Linked DNA regions of Homo sapiens: region 1 is linked to region 2. The links come from fine-mapping of genetic effects on gene expression. A gene starts in region 2. The other region holds a variant in brackets. All regions are shown on one strand. Distances are from middle to middle. Region 1 overlaps SLC26A9 (solute carrier family 26 member 9). Region 2 holds the start of SLC26A9 (solute carrier family 26 member 9).

Evidence for each region.
Region 1: its variant is fine-mapped to the expression of SLC26A9 in aorta (GTEx, PIP 0.94).

What each region holds. Positions count from the first base shown.
Region 1 is chr1:205,915,511-205,920,877 of GRCh38, forward strand. It overlaps SLC26A9 (solute carrier family 26 member 9), which reads right to left. Exons shown (of 21, transcript NM_052934.4): 18 at 4,666-4,720; 19 at 3,330-3,475; 20 at 1,773-1,844. Among named protein-coding and RNA genes, the nearest start is that of SLC26A9-AS1, 17 kb to the right of the region's middle. RefSeq lists enhancers at 4,523-5,054, 5,055-5,367. The variant C/A (reference allele first, on the strand shown) is at 2,751.
Region 2 is chr1:205,940,188-205,945,554 of GRCh38, forward strand. SLC26A9 (solute carrier family 26 member 9) reads right to left here and starts at 3,269. Exons shown (of 21, transcript NM_052934.4): 1 at 3,178-3,269. All of the region lies in intron 2 of SLC26A9-AS1 (SLC26A9 and RAB7B antisense RNA 1), which reads left to right.

The sequences.
Region 1 (5,367 bases), 25 kb before region 2:
AAAGCACCTGTGTGTGTGTGTGTGTGTGTGTGTGTGTGCGAGAGTGTGTGTGAACAGGGGAGAGGCAGGGTCAGCCTAGGAGGTGAACCAGTCCAGCGTGGCAGGAGCAGGTGCTGAAATCTACATGTGAATCACCTCCTGTGTGCTGTGTGACCTTCCACGTGTCCCTCGCCCCCTAATAGCTTCACTTTCCTCATTGGGTAAAATGAGGGTTGGCAGTAGACAAGCTCTGAAGTCCTTTCTCACGTTGATAAGCTATTTTGGTCCTATCCAGGCTTTTTGGAATGTGCTGGAGATTCCAAGAGGGCACCGAAATCAGTCTGCCAAATCTCTGTGGCTCCAGCTCTATTTTCTAATCTGTCCCACCTGCCATCAGCACTGTGAGAGACGGATTCAGAGCACCATGGAGCTCAATGTCAAAAAGAATGGGAAGAGGCACAAAGAGAGACACTACTTCTCATAGACCCAAAGCCAGATTTCTCCAAACCTAGTCATCTGGTTTCTTTTAATTCAGGGCATTGGTGGGGTGGTGTTAATCCAGGGGCCCTATGGGGATGGTGATCCCTCATATCCACATATCTTTTAGGTTTTGTTTTGTTTGTTTTTGAGACAGTCTAGCTCTGTCACCCAAGCTGGAGTGCAGTGGCACGATCTCGGCTCACTGCAACATCTGCCTCCCAGGTTCAAGTGATTCTCATGCCTCAGACTTCCGAGTAGCTGGGACTACAGGCATGCACCACTACGCCTGGCTAATTTTTGTGCTTTTAGTAGAGACGGGGTTTCGCCATGTTGGCCAGGCTGGTCTCAAACTCCTGACCTCAGGTGGTCCGCCCACCTCAGCCTCCCAAAGTGCTGGGATTACAGGTGTGAACCATTGCACCCAGCCACATATTTTTTAGTTCTTAAGGCTTGTCCACATGCAATAATAATTCATTTGTAGACCCAGAATCCATCTATTCTACCATAACGTAAGTTTCTAAAAGGCAGAGGCCTTTGTTTTGCTCACTGCTATGTGCCCATCCTGAACTGTGTCAGGCAAACAGTAGGTACGCCATAAATACCTGCTGAATTAATGAAAGAACAAGTGACTGCCCTGCCAATCTTGTGTGGTGGATGGGACAGGTATTACCTATGTTTCCCCTAATTTCACAGATGATAAAAACTAGGGCCCAGGGTGTATGTGGCTTGCTCAGGGTCACGTGGGTGATGTGTTGGAGAATAAGAATAGATACTGGTTCTCTAGGACTTGGTCCAGTGACTCACCCTCTCCCCACGATAACTTTCAGGGAGTGAGAAGAATGAAAACAAAGGCCAGGCATCGTGGCTTATGCCTGTAATCCAGGCACTTAGGAGACCGAGGCAGGCAGATTGCTTGAGATCGGAAGTTCGAGACCAGCCCAGCCAACATGGTGAAAAGCTGTCTCTACTAAAAATACAAAAATTAGCTGGGCGCAGGCCTGAAGTCCCAGCTACTCGGGAGGCTGAGGCAGGAGAACCTCTGGAACCCGGGAGGCAGAGGTTGCAGTGAGCTGAGATCATGCCACTGCATTCCAGTCTGGGTGATAGAGTGAGACTTTGTCTCAAATTAAAAAAAAAAAAAAAAGAAAAGGAAAAGAAAAAAAACAAAGATGACCACAAATCTTTGTGGCCTTGAATGTGACTGCTCTGGGCTGGAGGTGAGACAGCTGAGTGAACGCCTTGTATTTGACAGCGACCCCATCCTTCCCCTCTTCGCCCTGCTCCCACCCTCACAGCCCCTTCCCTCAGCTCACCTGCTCTAAGTCCCAGTAGCTGCGAATGTCCTCCTCTGAGTCGTACAAGGAGAGCTCAGCATCCCCTGGAGCCTGGAAGGGAGGAAGCCAGTGCAGAATGAGCTTCAGTGACTGAACAGCAAAGTTGGTGCATGGTGGCAGGAAAAGGGACAGGTGGCCGGCTCTGGTTGGACGCTGCTTCCTGACACATGACTTATCCTCTTGCCCCTTCCCTTACCTGCCTCACAAAAACAGCACGGCTGTGGTCTTCCCCCTTATACCAGACAGGTGTGTATCGCGGTCTTCCCTCCTTTGTGGGCCGTTAGAGGCAGGGAAGGTTTTACTCAGCTTAGAAAAACTATTGGCTAGCTGCCTGACCTTGGGGAATTCCTGTCCTCCTGGGAATATATTTTCTAATCTGTTCAAGTCTGATAACCAGCCTCACTTTGCCTGCTTTGTCCCTCACAATGCTGTTGAAAAGGTGTGTGTTTATGTGTGTGATTTGTATCTGTGAATGGTCTATAATATGTAAGTATATATTATATAAAATATAAATTATTTATAAGTCTATGACTAATCAAGTATACATACCAACTAGAGTAGCTGAACATGATTAGGGCACTAACAACTAATGCAGCTTCCTCCAGAATCTCCCTCTTTGCTCTGCGGACAAATTCACGAAGCAGGAAAGCCCGTTGTTTCCCCAGGGTTTCCCTCTAGGCATGGAGGGCAGGAGCCAGCGCCCTGTGTGTTCCTGGGCAGTCTTTCAGCACTTAGAACAGATGGTTTCACCTTCATCAGTCTCTTAAGGCAAAGAGCAAATCATTGCTCTAGGGCCAGAAAAGCCTTTCTTATGACCCACAGAGGGCAGGGGAGGTTTTTACCCAGGGCTGGGGCACAACAAGAGTCTTGGGAGGCCAAGGGCAGGAGCTGAGCTGGGAGGGGACCCTGAGGGCTAGAGATGACTGGGGATCTGGGCAGGGACCCCAAGGAGGTAGG[C/A]TTTTTCTGACTCCCCAGTCTTCTGGAGTTTTAGATGGTGTTATTTGTATCCCATTTGTAACTTACTGAGCTAGTAAATTAAATGTCAAAAAGCTGAGACAAAACTCAGACCCAATCTCTTTATCCCTCACCAGCCTGAAATCTCTAAGCTCCGGTAAGTTAAAATGGGTAGGCTTACTCCCCTCCCCTCCCTTCCCGAAAGCCCCCTTTAGAAAGAGATGAGGAGGAGGCAGGGAACGATGCCAGCAGAGTGGGCCTGCTCTACTATGCTTTGGGTGTTTGTGCAACCAGAAAACTTATATTGATAAAGAATTTTTACAATACACAAAGTGCTTTCAAGTGACACAAAAGATGTAATTATCATTTAACCCTAAAACAAAATAAAAGAAAAATGCAGAGAGGTAGGTAATGTTAGTTGATGGTGCTCATTCTATAGATAAGGAAACAGATTCAGAAAACTGAAATGGCAGACTTGATATTGGAACTTAAACCTTCTCCTGTGTTCTTTCTAATAATGCCTCTTGGTCCTGCTATTTCAGTGCCTTGGAGCCTAGGATTCCCCAGGTGCAAGAACCTTACCCCTTGGAAGTTGTGTCCTGGGGTCACGTCTCTAGCATTTGCCTGGGCAAAGAGGACTGCGTCATGTATGCTGGGAAAGACGTGCTTGCATTCTAGACTCCCATCCTCAAAGACGCCTCCATGGCTAATGTCATTGTACACCTGGGCTAGAAGGAGAAAAGATCACCTTCAGAAAGATAACAGCCATTGTGGATTGGAGCTGGGGGTGGGGAAGATAGTGAGACCAGAGCAGGGATGGGAGAGGCCTGAGGTCCCAGCTCTTGCTGTATCTGAGGGCCATGGCATTGGCAGTGCAATATCAGTTTTGGACGGCAGAGGGCAACATGAACTTGAGGATGCTGAAGTTTCAACCCAGAGCAGAAGGAAGCAGTTTGATTTAGGGAGTCAGTACTTTGTGGTGATTCGAGTGGAAAAGCCTAAGCCATCCTTGAAGAGGCCGCTGCCAGTTCTATCCCCCAAGGACCCATCCTTCCTCTTGTTTTCCCAGACCTTTCCAGCAACTTCCAATGTGTGGCATTGGAAGTTTGTGTGGATTACTCTTAATCCTAGAGATGGTTTCCTGAGGGGGTGTCCAGTGAGGTTGGGGAGAATCCACTGCTTCTAACTCCAGAACATATCATAGCAGGTCATTGCCACTGCAGATTCTCTCCCCGAACGTGGCCATGCGGAGCTTGGGAACTGCAGCCCTGCTGGAGGGGGTCTGACCCAGTGCAGGGAGCTGGGTGTGTGTGTATGTGCCCCTTCACATTCTCCTGTGTGTCTGTGTGCACTTGCTCCCACATCTCTGCACTTTGCGTACATGCTAGTCATGTAAATGTCTGCTGCCCTGTGGCCACGTCCTTGAGGCTGTGTATATGCACCCTTTGGAGGCTGTATGCCTACAAAACTGCATATTTATATGTTCCCTGGGGAATTAGGGTACCGTGTGCTCTATGCCTATATCGATTCACAGAGTTTCTGATTGGGAGAGGATCCCCAAATCCATCTAGTCAACCCTCTCGTTTTACATAGGTAGAAATAGATCCCTTGAGAGATAAAGTGACTCGGCCAAGGATACGTGGCAAATTAGTTATGGGGTAGATTAGAATCCTAGCTGTCCTTCTGTAACTCCATGACCTCCTCACCCCCACTCTGTCACTAAGGCCCCTAGGATGTTTATGCAATCTGACCAGTCTCTTTGGACTTGTACCTGAAGCTTTTATGAGCAGGCAGCAGCTTGTGGGGGATAGCTGGGTGCTCTCGTTTCCAACCTCCTCACTATTCAGACCCCACCAACCTGTTCCTACCCCACACTCCTTGCCAGTCTTTCAGTCCCTAAATGTCCTCTTTCTCTTACCATGGATGTTCACCAAGAAGACCTTCACGCCGATCTTCCCATAGGTGGAGCTCAGCTAGAAGTGTTGTTGGGGTAGGGAGGCAAAAGGAAAGGAATGTTCTGAGTGGGTCTCAAAAGTGATTCACAAAACGTACTTCAGAGGGGAAGCCAAACAAATAAGCAACCCTGAGAGCCCAGCAGCCAAAGACAAAAATAGCAGCAAAGCACACCACTTCTCCCTGGAGTGTTGGCTGACGGTTTCTCTGGGAAGTGGAGCGGAAATGGACTTTTGCCAACGTGGCGGGCACTTAAAGTCACCATGGCCCCTTCTTGTGGGGCTAGATATTTTCTTTTTTTTTCTTTTGAGATGGAGTTTCACTCTGTTGCCCAGGCTGGAGTGCAGTGGCGTGATCTTGGCTCGCTGCAACCTCCGCCTCCTGGGTTCAAGCAATTCTCTGCCTCAGCCTACCGAGTAGCTGGGACTACAGGGGCCCGTCACCACACCTGGCTAATTTTTGTATTTTTAGTAGAGGCGGGGTTTCACCATGTTGGCCAGGCTGGTCTTGAACTCCTGACCTTGTGATCCACCTGCCTTGGCCTCCCAAAGTGCTGGGATTACAGGAGTGAGCCACCACGCCCGGCTGATCTTTTCTTTCAGTAGCTTAGATTCTCAGACTTCTTTGTGGCTTCAGACAGAAGCTGCAGGGGAGGATGGAGGCTCAG
Region 2 (5,367 bases):
GAGGGGATGCAGGGGTCGTGCGAGCCGGAGTAGCTGGGAGAGGGGAAGCAAAGAGAAAATAGACCCTGCAGGGAGGGCACAGGCTGGAGCAGATTCCCTCTTGAGATTCTCCAGGATTTCTCCTCCAATGAGCTCATGCCAAAGCACGCCCCTGGTACCTTCTCCCAGTCACATTTCTAACCAGGTCTCTGTCAACACCATCCAAATATTGTAGGCAGAGATGGGCTTGGGCAGAGATGGGCTCAGGCAGAGACAGTGCCCGAGTGGATGCACTGAAAGGCTCGGAACGGCACCTGGCCATGGGAAGCATGCAATAAACTCCAACTATCATCATTACTGCTATGACTCCAGAGGAGCCTCTTTCTTGCTCTGCCATCTCTAGTGGGCACTCTGCCTTTTTTTGGCTTGCCTTTTTCCATCTGCCCCTATACCTGCTGCCCCATGCCTTAACCCCTCCAAATTTTCCCAGGACTTGATGAGAGGAACAGCAGAAAATCTTGTCAGAAGAGGGTAGAACATCTGCAGAGCAGGACTGTGAGGGGTCCATTTGTGGGTTTTGGTTGGATCTGGAGGTGATCCTGTCACTGTGGGCCAGGCTGACTTCCTCCCTCAGTCCTGTCGGGGGTGTGCATGTGAGGGAGGGGGTTTTTGACGCATGTGTGCCAGGTACGGGAACAGCCCCGGCTGGGCCAACCCACCCTGGCATCCTTATCACTGGTTCCTAGCCAGCCGGTTGCTGTGTTCTGGGAAGAGGAAAGGTCACCTTGAGGTTTCCCCTTTGCTCTAGCTGCTGGTTGCCTCCCTGCCTCATCCAGGGTGGGGGCCACAGGGTAAGAGCAGCCTCTGAGTGACCCAGGTGTGAATGTGAGCTGGGACAGACAAGCTGGCTGGGGTCTCAGTGGGAGACCACATCCATGGCAGGAGGAGGAAGGATGTAGAGGCCTCTGCACCCCTAAGGCTTTTTTGTTTGTTTGTTTTGTTTTTTTGTTTTTGTTTTTTGAGGTGGAGTCTCCCTCTGTCACCCAGGCTGGAGTGCAGTGGCACGATCTTGGCTCACCACAGGGTGCACTTCCTGGGTTCAAGCAATTCTCCTGCCTCAGCCTCCCTAGGAGCTGGGATTACTGGTGCGCGCCATGACACCCAGCTAATATTTTTTATATTTTTAGTAGAGACGGGGTTTCGCCATGTTGGCCAGCCTGGTCTCGAACTCCTGACCTCAAGTGATCTGCCCTCCTTGGCCTCCCAAAGTGCTGAGATTACAGGCTGAGCCACTGCGCCCAGCCCCCCAAGGCATTTTTAAACACTCCTTTTCCTTCTACTGTCCCTGTGTTTCCAGGGCAAATCTCTCCCTACTCCTCACCCCAGCCTAATTTCCTCCTCAGTGTAGGGGAGGATGAGATGTCCCTAAGGTGTCTTAGAGACTGCATCCCGTGTAGGAGAGAGATTCACTGATACCACCCCCCAAATCCCCACTCCTTATCTCCAGGCGAACTCTCCCTCCTCTGCACTTTCCCTGCTGGGAATGGGTGCTGGGCTGAGGAAATAGGCTCCAGAAAGAGGGACCAAGGCTAGACTTTGAGAATCACTTCCTAACAGCAAGACTGACAAGGTCATGGGCTCCCTGGAATGGGCACTTGAGGTTAAATTCCTAGAAGTCTTTAAGGAGACTGGGGTTGCTTTCACTTGGAAGCAGGGCCTGGGCAAGGAGACCAGTGAAGGGCCCAGCTGCTCTGGTCCCAGAAATCCAGGCGAAAGCCCAGAGAGGCATCCAGTGAAGATCAACTCCCCTTGAAGGGGTGGCTCTGCCCCTTCCATCTTCCAAGTAGTGACCCCACAGCCCCCAAAGCTTGGTCAGTGTTGAGCTGGTCCTCGATTCCCCCAGCAAGTTCACGGGGGTCAGTCTGGCTGTTTAGTACGGTTTAAGAGGCACTCTTGAATACTGGGTATATGCCAATCTCCGGAAGACTCTGGGCATTAAAAGATAAAGAGGAGTCCGTCTCTGCCCCAGGGTTTATACAAATGAGACTCAGAGAGCAGGTGGCTAGCTCTGGGAAGTGCCTGGGAAGGCCTTCCTGGCAGTGGAGGTGCTCTTGGCCATGCTGGTCTCCATGCTGCCCAAGCAGGGTCTTGCCAGGTTCTGGATGCCAGGGCCAGGATGAGGGAGGTGGGGGAGGACTGTGGGGTTCTGAGAAAGGGTCATCTGCATGAGTGAAGCCACTCAGGGGGAAAGCCCTCTCTCAGTCTGCCCACTTGGGGGGCTGCGTCACTCCAGGGTCTTCTGGTCCTCAGACCCGTGGGGCCAAGTGTAAGGGGGCAGTTGATGCTGGAATAATAGAAGCTTTGTTAGGTCTCAGCTGGGGACCCTCTGGGCTGGTTTTGAGGAATGGGGGCACTGCCTGAGAGTGGCTTGGAACCCCTTGGAGCTGCAGGATGAGGGGTTTGGAGGCTGAGAGCCTGGAGAGCTGGCTGCCCATCCACTGTCCTGGCCCAAGCCCTTCTGTGTTGAAGCATTCACCATTGAGTCGGGCGTCCCAGGTCCAGCTACCGCCCACCCGCCTGCCTGATGGAGCTGGTCCCTTGCTCACCCTCTCCCACTCCTCAGTTTCCTCCCCCTCCACCTCTTCCAACTTCTCAGGACTAATGGGGACACATGGGATTCTGTGTAGTCCATGCTAAGTTCCCCGAGCTGGTGGAGAAGTACATGAGTGAAGGAGGATGTCTGGGCGGTAGAAGGAGGGGGAGACAGCCATGCAGAGTAGGCTGGTGAGTCAAGCATTAAGAGCTTTTCCCTCCAAGACTTGAAAAGAAAGGGAGAGGAGCAGCCCACAGCTTCAAAGGCTGTCGCGGAGGAAGGTCTAACATTTTCCTTTCCCTCGGAGGCCTTTGCCTCGCTCTGTTTCGGGGTCTGGCGACCACCACACCCTCACCCTACTTGCTCCCTCAGTCAAGCCCAGCCTTGCAGCCCAGGTCCTTACATAGACGTGAAGACCCAAAGGGCTCCTCAGAGGGGAAGGGCTGGGAGGCTGCTCTCAGACTCCAGGGGCCAGAGTGTCCTTCCTACTTGTGCTCAGCTTGGCAGTTGGTTCCTGTCATCCCTCCTCTCGGTACCCCTGGTGACTGCCCTCTTGCAGGGATGACCCCAGCCCAGTGGGGTGGGCTGGGCTGGGTGGGGCTTACCAGTGGGTGAGCAAAGCCGGCTGGGCAGGGCTGCAGGTGTGTCTGGGGAGCGGGCAGCCGAAAGGTGTTCCTGAGGTGTGTGAAAGGGCTCTGCTCAAATAATCCAGGGAGGCGTTTATAAATAACTTTTCCTCAGGGCCACGGGGTGAGCCCCGGCTTCTGATTGGCTCAGAGGGGAAGTGGTTTTGAACACTACACCATAGCTAAGCCTGAGGAGATAGGAAAAGGAGATAAGGGGGAAAAGGTCCCAAATGAACAGCCCTTTTTTTGTTTTACCTGGGGAGCAGGGCTGTGTGATGGGAGCTTGGCACTTCCTAAATCCACCCCGAAGACAATAGGTCACATTCAGCGGGGCTCCTGCCCCACCGGCTCCCCCAAGGCGGCCCTGGAGGAGGGGGACGAGGCAGAGGAGGGGGACAAGGCAGGACAAGCTCCTCTGAGCTTGCTGTCCTGCTGCTTATGGGGCTGGGGGTCAGGCCAAAGAGCCTCTTGGACAATGGGAGCTATTGAGGCCACCTGAGGGGTGTGCTCTTGGGGATGCTTGCTTTGAAGATTGGAGATCTAGGGGGTGGGAAGACAGTAGTCCTCTGAACACCCCTGAGGAAGGGGAAGAACCATGTCTGGGAGGCCCTGGGAGCCTTTAGGCGGTTTTGGTTTGTGGTGGAGACCTGGTTCCCAGTTCTGTCCCCAATGTTAAGTTGCTTGTGAGCTCTGTGCCTTGGTCTATCCATCAGTGCAATGGGGGAAATTATTCCTGGCCCCTCAGGTAGTGTGCAAAGAGAACACAGGGGTTTAGAATCTGATAAAAGAGCTCAAGAAACTGGACTTAGAACAATTATATGAGAGGCGACCTGAAGGCTAGCAAATCTCCAGTCACAGCCCTCTGCCGCTTCTAGGAATTAATGTCTCCCTGGGTCATGGCACTGCTCCGGCTGCTGCCAGCAGAGCTGCCCATCCCAGGCCCATTGAGTGCTACGGAAGGACCTCAGAAAGCAATTGTGGACAGGGGCTGGGAGGGTGGGTAGGGGAGTTTCTTAATTTACTTCCTGGGAGGGAGAGTCACTACCCGACACCAGGTGCCCATTCTTTGAGACATCAAGTGCTGCACTGTCCTCGTCCTCAACTGTCCTCCCATCTCTCCAAAAGAAACCAGAGGCTCTGAAGTGGGCTGGAATCAGTGCAGGGGGCTTCAGTAAGGCACCTCTGGAAGTTGGGGCGAAAGTTCCCCATGGTGAAATGAGCTAGCTTCAGTACTTAATAGGGACTCAATAAATATTTGTTAAATGAATGAAAGAGTGAATTGTCTGCAAGCCCAACCCAAGGGATAGTTTGTAGATGCATTGCTTGTGGGGACTAGGGAAACACCCGAGGTCACTCAGAGTTGTCAGGGTGTAGCCAGACAACTGGCTGAAGAGAGCCAGAATTCAAGTGACCCAAGTGTGCCCTGACACCTGGCTGAGGGAAGGATGTGTGCATGGACACTGCCTCGGGGAGCCCTTCCCCAGACCCCTATGTGGACTTAGCTGACATGTTGCACATTCGTTCCTCTGGCTTCCTCTGCTTCACTCTCATAACACTGACCACAATTAATGGTAATTATGTATGGAATTGTCAGTCTTTCTGCAAACACCGTGAACTCCCTGAGGAGGGCAAGGGGGCAGTGCCTCTTTTGTATCCCTACCCACCTAGCCCAGTGCCCGGCACTTAGGAGGAGCTCAATATAGATTTGAGGAATGAATGAACAATTGTATGATAGAGTCTTTAAACAAAGCAAAGCCAGAGGGCGAGAATTTGTCCATGCATCTTCAGTATTGTCCAGTGTCATGGGTAGCCTGACCTGTTCTAAACTTTGCCCAGGAAATTCCTAGAAAGCAGATGAGTCATTATGTTCTTCCGATAGCCAGGTGACAGTGGCTATCAAGATCAAACAACTAAGTCCCCTTGCTGAGACACCATGTCCACCAGGGAATCTTCTGGTTGTATGTCCTTTAGGGCAGAGAATGCACTGCCCAGCTGGTTGGAGCGACTAGGGCTGCTTTTGCAGGCATGCTTCTCTTTTAAATGACCCATGGACATTCTGGGCTACCCATTGGTCCAGTGTGAGTTTTATTAATGTGAGTTAGTATCCCCTGAGTCTGACCTAGTTTCCACAGTAACACTTGGTTTTCCCACAGGTGATTTGGTTTAATT